Linked DNA regions of Homo sapiens: region 2 is linked to region 1. The links come from fine-mapping of genetic effects on gene expression. Tissue or cell type: monocytes. Region 1 holds a variant in brackets; the other region holds the start of a gene. All regions are shown on one strand. Distances are from middle to middle.

Region 1 (5,153 bases):
GTCCCTGCAAAGAACATGAACTCATCATTTTTTATGGCTGCGTAGTATTCCAGAGTATATATGTGCCACATTTTCTTAATCCAGTCTATCATTGATGGACATTTGGGTTGGTTCCAAGTCTTTGCCATTGTGAATAGTGCAGCAATAAACATACGTGTGCATGTGTCTTTATCGTAGAATGATGTATAATCCTTTTGGTATACACTCAGTAATGGGAAAGCTGGGTCAAATGGTATTTCTAGTTCTAGATCCTTAAGGAATCGCCACACTGTCTTCCACAATGGTTGAACTAATTTACACTCCCAACAATAGTGTAAAAGCATTCCTATTTTTCCACAACCTCTCCAGCATCTGTTGTTTCCTGACTTTCTAATGATTGCCTTTCTAACTGGAGTGAGATGGTATCTCATTGTGGTTTTGATTTGCATTTCTCTAATGACCAGTTATAATGAGCATTTTTTCATATGTCTGTTGGCTGCATAAATGTCTTCTTTTGAGAAGTGTCTGTCCATATCCTTTGCCCATTTTTTGATGGGGTTGTTTGCTTTTTTCTTGTAAATTTGTTTAAGTTCTTTGTAGATTCTGGATATTAGCCCTTTGTCAGATAGACATATTGCAAAAAATTTCTCTCATTCTGTAGGTTGCCTGTTCACTCTGATAATAGTTTCTTTTGCTGTGCAGAAGCCCTTCAGTTCAACTAGATCCAATTTGTCAATTTTGGCTTTTGTTACCATTGCTTTTGGTGTTTTAGACATGAAGTATTTGCCCATGCCTATGTCCTGAATTGTATTGCCTAGGTTTTCTTCTAGGATTTTTACAGTCCTAGGTCTTACATTTAAGTCTTTGATCCATCTTGAGTTGATTTTTGTATAAGGCGTAAGGAAGGGGTCCAGTTTCAGTTTTCTGCATATGGCTACCCAGTTTTCCCAACACTATTTATTAAATAGGGAATCTTTTCCCTATTGCTTGTGTGTGTCAGTTTTGTCAAAGATCAGATGGTGGTAGATGTGTGGTGTTATTTCTGAGGCCTCCGTTCTGTTCCATTGGTCTATATATCTGTTTTGGTACCAGTACCATGCTGTTTTGGTTATTGTAGCCTTGTAGTAAAGTTTGAAGTCAGGTAGTGTGATGCCTCCAGCTTTGTTCTTCTTGCCCAGGACTGTATTGGTTATGCAGGCTCTTTTTTGGTTCCATATGAAATTTAAAGCAGTTTTTTCTAATTCTGTGAAGAAAGTCAGTGGCAGCTTGATGGGGATAGCATTGAATCTATAAATTACTTTGGGCAGTAAGGCCATTTTCATGATATTTATTCTTCCTATCCATGAGCATGGAATGTTTTTCCACTTGTTTGTGTCCTCTATTATTTCCTTGAGCAGTGGTTTGTAGTTCTCCTTGAAGAGGTCCTTCACGTCCCTTGTAAGTTGTATTCCTAGGTATTTATTCTCTGAGTAGCAGTTGTGAATAGGAGTTCACTCATGGCTCTGTGTTTGTCTGTTATTGGTGTATAGGAATGCTCATGATTTTTGCACATTGATTTTGTATCCTGAGACTTTGCTGAAGTTGCTTATCAGCTTAAGGAAATTTGGGGCTGAGATGATGGGGTTTTCTAAATATACAATCATGTCATCTGCAAACAGAGACAATTTGAATTCCTCTCTTCCTACTTGAATACCCCTTATTGCTTTCTCTTGCTTGATGGCCCTGGCCAGAACTTCCAATACTAGGTTGAATCGAAGTGGTGAAAGAGGGCATCCTTGTCTTGTGCTGGTTTTCAAAGGGAATGCTTCCAGTTTTTGCCCATTCAGTATGATATTGGCTATGGGTTTGTCATAAATAGCTCTTATTATGTTGAGATATGTTCCATCAATATCTAGTTTATTGAGAGTTTTTAGCATGAAAGGCTGTTGAATATTGTTGAAGGCCTTTTCTGCATCTATTGAGATAATCATGTGGTTTTTGTCATTGGTTCTGTTTATGTGATGGATTTTGTTTATTGATTTGCATATGTTGAACCAGACTTGCATCCCAGCGATGAAGCTGACTTGATCGTGGTGGATAAGCTTTTTGATTTGCCAGTATTGTATTGAGGATTTTCACATCAATGTTCATCAGGGATATTGGCCTGAAATTTTCTTTTTTTGTTGTGTCTCTGCCAGGCTTTGGTATCAGGATGATGCTAGCCTCATAAATGAGTTAGGGAGGATTCCCTTTTTTCTCATTGATCAGAATAGTTTCAGAAGGAATGGTACCAGCTCCTCTTTGTACCTCTGGTAGAATACGGCTGTGAATCCATCTGGTCCTCGACTTTTTTTGGTTGGTAGGCTATTAATTATTGCCTCAATTTCAGAACCTGTTATTGGTCTATTCAGAGATTCAACTTCTTCCTGGTTTAGTCTTGGGAGGTTGTATGTGTCCAGGAATTTATCTGCTTCTTCTAGATTTTCTAGTTTATTTGCATACAGGTGTTTATAGTATTCTCTGATGGTAGTTTGTATTTCTGTGGGATTGGTGGTGATATCCCCTTTATCATTTTTATTGCATCTATTTGATTCTTCCCTCTTTTATCCTTTATTAGTCTTGCTAGAGGGCTATTTTGTTGATCTTTTCAAAAAACCAGCTCCTGCATTCATTAATTTTTGAAGGTTTTTTTTGTGTCTCTATCTCCTTCAGTTCTGCTCTGATCTTAGTTATTTCTCGTCTTCTGCTAGCTTTTGAATATGTTTGCTCTTGCTTCTCTAGTTCTTTTAATTGTGATGTTAGGATGTCGATTTTAGATCTCTCCTGCTTTCTCTTGTGGGCATTTAGTGCTATAAATTTCCCTCTACACACTGCTTTAAATGTGTCCCAGAGATTCTGGTACATTGTGTCTTTGTTCTAGTTGGTTTCAAAGAACGTGTTTAT[T/C]TCTGCCTTCATTTCATTATTTACCCAGTAGTCATTCAGGAGCAGGTTGTTCAGTTTCCATGTAGTTGTGTGGTTTTGAGTGTGATTCTTAACCCTGAGTTCTAATTTGATTGCACTGTGGTCTGAGAGACAGTTTGTTGTGATTTCTGTTCGTTTATATTTGCTGAGTGTTTTACTTCCAATTATGTGGTCAATTTTAGAATAAGTGTATGGTGGTGCTGAGAAGAATGTATATTCTGTTGATTTAGGGTGGAGAGTTCTGTAGATGTCTATTAGGTCCACTTGGTCCAGAGCTGAGTTCAAGTCCTGGATATCCTTGCTCATTTTCTGTCTTGTTGATCTAATATTGACAGTAGGGTGTTAAAGTCTCCCACTATTATTGTGTGGGAGTCTAAGTCTCTTTGTAGGTCTCCAAGAACTTGCTTTATGAATCTGGGTGCTCCTGTATTGGGTGCATATATATTTAGGATAGTTAGCTCTTCTTGTTGAATTGATCCCTTTACCATTATGTAATGGCCTTGTCTCTTTCGATCTTTGTTGGTTTAAAGTCTGTTTTATCAGAGACCAGGATTGCAACCCCTGCTTTTTTTTTGCTTTGCATTTGCTTGATAGATCTTCCTCCATTCCTTTATTTCAAGCCTGATGTGTGTCTCTGCACGTGAGATGAGTCTCCTCAATACAGTATACCACTGAGTCTTGACTCTTCATCCAATTTGCCAGTCTGTGTCTTTTAATTGGGGCATTTAGCCCATTTACATTTAAGGTTAATATTGTTATGTGTGAATTTGATCCTGTCATTTTGATGTTAGCTGGTTATTTCACCTGTTAATTGATGCAGTTTCTTCTTAGCATTGATGGTCTTTACAATTTGGCCTGTTTTTGCAGTGGCTGGTACCAGTTGTTCCTATCCATGTTTAGTGCTTCCTTCAGAAGCTCTTGTAAGGCAGGCCTGGTGGTGACAAAATCTCTCAGCATTTGCTTGTCTGTAAAGCATTTTATTTCTCCTTCACTTATGAAGCTTAGTTTGGCTGGATATGAAATTCTAGGTTGAGAATTCTTTGCTTTAAGAATGTTGAATATTGGCCCCTAGCCTCTTCTGGTTTGTAGGGTTTCTGCAGAGAGATCCACTGTTAGTCTGATTGGCTTCCCTTTGTGGGTAACCCAACCTTTCTCTCTCACTGCCCTTAACATTTTTTCCTTCATTTCAACCTTGGTGAATCTGATAATTATGTGTCTCGGGTTGCTCTTCTTGAGGAGTATCTCTGTGGTGTTCTCTGTATTTCCTGAATTTGAATGTTGGCCTGCCTTGCTAGGTTGGGGAAGTTCTCCTGCATAATATCCTGAAGAGTGTTTTCTAACTTGGTTCCATTCTCCCTGTCACTTTCAGGTACACCAGTCAAATGTAGATTTGGTCTTTTCACGTAGTCCCATATTTCTTGGAGGTTTTGTTCGTTTCTTTTCACTCTTTTTTCTCTAATCTTGTCTTCTCGCTTTATTTCATTAATTTGATCTTCAATCATTGATATCCTTTCTTCTGCTTGATCGAATCGGCTATTGAAGCTTGTGTTTGCTTCGCGAAGTTCTTGTAGTGTGCTTTCCAGCTCCATCAAGTCATTTAAGCTCTTCTCTACACTGGTAATTCTAGTTAGCCATTCGTGTAATATTTTTTCAAGGTTTTTAGCTTCCTTGCGATGGGTTAGAACATGCTCCTTTAGCTCAGATAAGTTTGTTATTATCAACCTTCTGAAGCCTACTTCTGTCAATTCATCAAATTCATTCTCCATCCAGTTTTGTTCCCTCACTGGAGAGAAGTTGTGTTCCTTTGGAGAAGAGGTGTTCTGTTTTTTGGAATTTTCAGCCTTTCTGCTCTGGTTTCTACACATCTTTGTGGTTTTATCTACCTTTGGTCATTGATGTTGGGACCTACGAATAGGGTTTTGGTGTGGATGTCCTTCTTGTTGATGTTGATGCTATTCCTTTCTGTTTGTTAGTTTTCCTTCTAACAGACAGGCCCCTCAGCTGCAGTTACTTCGCAGTTTGCTGGAGGTCCCCTCCATACCCTGTTTGCCTAGGTATCACCAGTGGAGGCTGCAGAACAGCAAATATTGCTGCCTGATACTTCCTCTGGAAGCTTCATCCCAGAGAGGCACCCGCCTGTATGAGGTGTCTGTCAGCCCCTACTGGGAGGTGTCTCCCAGTCAGGCTACACAGGGGTCAGGGACCCACTTGAGGAGGCAGTGCTTCTGTTCTTG
Region 2 (5,153 bases), 140 kb after region 1:
AGATAAAAAGTTCAAGTATTACAAATTTGAAAATGTGCTTTTAACATATTAATGTTACATCTTATCTTTGATAGAAGATCTTTGTGATACTATTATTCTGAAGTAGGAATTAATCCTTAATTCCTAGTAACCTTGTGAACAGGAGTCACAAGGATTGTTATATCATAAATTCTTGGCTGGGCGCGGTGGCTCATGCCTGTAATCCCAGCACTTTGGGAGGCTGAGGCGGGTGGATCACGAAGCCAGGAGATCGAGACAATCCTGACTAACACGGTGAAACCCAGTCTGTACTAAAAGTACAAAAAATTTGCCGGGCATGGTGGCGGGCGCTTGTAGTCTCAGCTACTCGGGAGGCTGAGGCAGGAGAATGGCGTGAACCCAGGAGGTGGAGCTTGCAGTGAGCGGAGATCGCGCCACTGCACTCCAACCTGGGCGACAGAGCGCGACTCCGTCTCAAATAATAATAATAATAATAATAAATTCTTGATGTAAGCATAGTAAAGGCAATAATTACTCTTGCTCAGGGATTGCTCATGCCATCTACATACTCTTAATAGACACTCTTGCCCCCAACTTGAGGAAAATCAAACAGGTTATACAACTCATGTGGTCCTTCTTAAGTGTCAACCCACAACTTGGTCATAAATTACAGTAGGCAGGTGACACATACAAGTCACAAATAGTTTTGTCACATCAAATTTTACTTTTGTTCTACTGAAAATAGGTGGCAAACCTGCAGAATAATAAAAGAAAAGAAAAAACAATCAAACTAGCAATTAAATTTATTTTAAAGAAAGAAATAAGTTGGAATTATTTACAATTTAATAATGCTACATGACGGCAGATAGCACACAGTCATAGATTTGTAAAAGGTGCCTGTCACCACACACACAAAAAAAATCACTCACACTGACTATAACTTGTTAAATAAATCATGTCTTTAAGTCATTAATATGATCAACAAATCATCAGGAACACGACAAGGAAAAAGCTGAGCTTCTGTTCTTAATGTGAAATGCAGTCCACCAAAGAGACAACCAAAATAACTAAACAAACCTCTGTGCTGACTGATGGCATTTTCAGACTCCTGAATAAATAGGAAATGTCCAAAGCGCACGCACACACACACACAAAAGGAACAATCCCGAGACAAACCTGGCTGTAAAATAAGTGTGGAAGCAAAATGATAAATTCGGAGGTATTTTTTATTTGAGAGACATCCCGAGTGCTTATATTGCATCACCAGTGAAGGAAAATGAAATGTTACCAGGATCCGAAAAGGAGTCTCTGAACAGGGTGTACACTGAATTCCCCTTTAATAAAAAGAGAGCAGCTCTAAACAAAATTTTTTTTTAACTTCCAGAAAGCCAAATTAAAAACAAAACAAAACAAAACAAAACAAAAGAAAGAAAGAAAAGAAATGGCTTTACCCACAGTCCCATGTCTGGGACAGAGTTCTTCTACCAAGCCATGCAAAGTGTCCAAGACAGAGGCCACCCACCACGCATTCCCAGACTCTTAACCGTGTCACTCCAGAAACCGAGAGGACTTGGATTTCCAGATTGCTAACGTGATCTGAAGGCACTCAGTACACGTTTCTGTCTGGGCAGGACCAGTTGAGCCACTTCTCGCCTTATCAACTTCCAATAATTGCCACACTGTGTGTGCAACCAGTAAGTGAGTGGCACATGGAGTCTGACCTGGCACTCCATTCACACACTTTGTCTGATACTACTTTCATTGTCTGGGCTCTTGTTTTTGGAGAAGAGCTGCCGAAAAGTATCACCTTTTCCTCTATCACTAACCTTTACCTTTACCTCTATCCCTAACATGGGATGCCGAGGTGCAGAGGCACCAGCACTGCCCTGCCATCACTCTAGTGGATACGGACCCGATTAGGCGTCCTTCTTCCTTCTGCCCACACCAAGGCCCCCCAGGCCGCGGCCGCTCACCGGGAACCTTCCCAGGGGAGCGGCGGAGGGGCGAGGCCATGGTGCGGGGACCTGCAAGAGGGCCCTGACCCTGATAGAGAGGGGCCGATGGGCGGCCAGGTGGGCCTGCGGGTTTACCTTGTTGAGGTGAGGGTTCCGTGTCAGCAGGTAGCCGCGCTGATGGGTGTGGCGGCGACGGGGGGCTTCGGGCTCCATGGCTGGCGCCGGGTTCGGCGGCGGGGTCAGGCCGGGGCGGGCCGCACGCGCGGTGCAGGCGGCGGATGCTGCTGGGGTGACGGTGCTGACTGCAGCTGTGGCGGCGGCGGCCGCACTGGGAAAGGCCCAGCGGCTGGGGGCGGGCGTGGGTGGCGAGAGGGGGTGGACGCGTCGGGAGGGGCCCGAGCGAAGCCGGTGTCCCCAGCAGGGCAGCCTGCGAGAAGCGCTGAGTCATGGCAGGAGATCATCCGAGCCGGCGTGTGAGGAGGAGGAGGAAGAGCGAGTCCTGGCAGCGCTGCTGGTGGCGGAGCGGGGGTGGCGGCCGGAGCCCTTGGCTCCATAGGGCCTCTGCCCACCATGGGCTTATGATCACCGCTGTGGTCGCCTCTCTCCATGTGGGCATGCCTAAACGCAGTGCACTGGGTGGCTCTGCTGACCCCAGAGACCCAGGGCGGGGGCAGGGAGCGGGGAGCGTCAGGCCAGGATCCCCCTGCCCGGGAAGGCTGGAGAAAGTGCGAGAAGATGCCAGAAGGTGCGAACCTGAGCGGTTCAGGCAGAGCCGGCGGTCGCTCAGACACCTAGGGGGATTACAGGACGGAAGGACTCGTGAGGGGTCCCCAGAACTGTTGACAGAACACCTCGACAGGCTGAGGAGAATCAGACTCGTCTCTCCTGTCTTGTTAGCGTCTTGGAAGCCCTCTTTCTACAGATCCACAACCTTCGCCGTGCCATCCAGGATGCCGGCCATGCCCGGGGCCCTGAGGCCGGAGGGAACCAACCTTGACCCAGAATGCCGAGGCCCAAGGGAACTGGGAGGAAGCCCAGAGAGGAGAGCTCAGGCGCCACACCTGTCAGTTTCTACAGATTTTCCACCGGAATTGTATTTGAATGTCAATAAGATAAGAGTCAAGGTGTTAGGGTGCAAAGGCCCAATGAACAGTCCTGTTTATCTTGTATATTATTTCTCTGGGAGTTCTAGAAACCTGATGTTCAAGAACCACTGCTCTCTCTGAATAATGATGAGTAAGCAGTCTTTCAGGCCTTCCTCCCAACCTCAGGTGATCCGCCCGCCTCCGCCTTCCAAAGTGCTGGGATTATAGGTGTGAGCCACCGCGCCGGGCCATTTTTTTATTGTTTTATTGATATTTATGCTTGGAGGTTCATGGACTGGAGGAATAGTCAGATCATAGCCAAAAGGAGTGCCTGTCTGATAAAAATAAATTAATAGCAACAGACACTAAAGCCTTCTGTGCCCCAGTTTCCTTTTCAGTTAAATAGGATTGCTAGTTTCTGTCCCATTTGTCTCTGCATACTGATATTACAAAGGATAGTGTTTGAGATTATTTGCTGATTTTATATCTCCATATACTAGACACACATCCAATCACAGTGTTTTCATTTCTAGTTATGTTAACTTTGCCTTATCAGAAAGATTTCTTACAGTAATTGTATTTTGTCCGTATTTACATTTAGAAGCTTCTTTGACCTCGCCTGAATTATCTAGAATTCGTTGTTTTTATAGAGAATATTTTCTAGGCATCACAAAGTTCTTTTTGAAAAAAATCCTTGAAGTTAAATGACACCTTTCATTGTTAATTCTATACTCCATAAATACTCAATCCTACAACATCTAAGAAAAAGGTGTACTTTACACAACTCACTCTCCTGAATTAACTGAGACACATTACAGTTAGGGTGTTTTATGTGAGAGGAAACAGTTTAACAGCTGGCATGGGAGCCAATTCAAGCTGCTTAAGAAGAAACAAAAATGTTAGTACAACAGACCCTTATTATAATAAAGTACTTATTACATGAATTTAGATATACTACCTACCTGTTCCTGTTTCTGAGATTTAATATCTACAGATAGGAAAAGTGTTATAAGTACAGGGAGTAACCCACAAAGAGTATATGGCCTCTCCCTCAAAGGCAACATTACAAGGGGATTACAATATCCTGCCAGTAGTAGGTAAAGTTCACATCTTTCATCTGTATGTTTATTTTAATTATTAAAATAACCGCCGTCATCTTGAATGAAACAGGATAAGGCCTAGCTGAAGAAGCCATTTAGTACATTCATATGTAGTTCCAAGAATACTAGAAAGAACCTATTTTTCTACATAAATGTTAGCTAGAATATCAAAATTTTCAGTCTTTTTTAAATAATAATCTCATAAGGTTAGGTTTTATTTCCAAAAACGTAGGAAAACAGATGCAGAGAAAAAAACTGCTTTAATTTGCCTTGTAACAAACTGTGGTTGCACTGTCACTCTGAAAGCAATTGGTAATGTTAAGAATGGGTATCATTCACAAATTAAGAGACTAAAACATAGATTTCTGTTATACACAGGTGAGAATGCCATCAGTCAAAATCAGATTTTTCTTTCCCAAGTTATAGTTTAGCACACAAAGAGCTTTTACAACATAAAATATGATTGTAATAGATACTCTGATGTAATGTCAGTTGAGATTGCAAGTATAGAAAATTCAGGAAATAACTCTTAGTACATACAGCAATTCTAATATTTTACTTTCATGAGATAAAAAAGATTAATAGAAAAAATACATATCTAGGTGAGGATTTATAATATTAACTAAATGATTCTGTATTTCTTCACACAAAAAGCACACTACTACTATGTCTTCAAAATCTAGTGTGCATTTTATAACACATCTCAATTTAGACACCAAATTTTTATCAGAAATTTGATCTGTATTTCAATTTTATAAAACTTACATTTGCAATAGTAGACTCTCATACCTAACTTGTTGCAAATATACCTTAAAGTTTTCCAATGACTAAATTGAGTATCTGTTTTATATTTAAATTAAAATCAAATACAATTTAAACTGAGTATCTCATTTGCACTGGCCACATTTCAAATGCTTAGTAACATGCCAGTGACCATCGAATTAGAGAGCACAAGTCTAATCCAATGCATTTGGGCCCTTAATTAAATGTTTTAAATAAATAAAGATCAAATATACATACCTGTGTTATTGTAA

Alleles and levels. Positions count from the first base shown, and alleles are read on the strand shown. Sizes are in standard deviations (SD) of each study's normalised expression.
For the expression in monocytes of the gene that starts at base 2,244 in region 2, C is the low allele of the variant in region 1 and T is the other (large effect, 0.85 SD a copy in Fairfax 2014).

The links. PIP is the estimated chance that this variant, and not a neighbour inherited with it, causes the effect.
Region 2: ME1 starts here. The variant in region 1 is fine-mapped to the expression of ME1 in monocytes (Fairfax 2014, PIP 0.95).

What each region holds. Positions count from the first base shown.
Region 1 is chr6:83,287,462-83,292,614 of GRCh38, forward strand. The region is part of intron 6 of ME1 (malic enzyme 1); the gene reads right to left. Among named protein-coding and RNA genes, the nearest start is that of RWDD2A, 97 kb to the left of the region's middle. The variant T/C (reference allele first, on the strand shown) is at 2,902.
Region 2 is chr6:83,428,808-83,433,960 of GRCh38, forward strand. ME1 (malic enzyme 1) reads right to left here and starts at 2,244. Exons shown (of 14, transcript NM_002395.6): 1 at 2,070-2,244. The coding sequence starts at 2,147. RefSeq lists enhancers at 1,458-1,727, 2,348-2,517, 2,460-3,659 and a silencer at 1,948-2,137.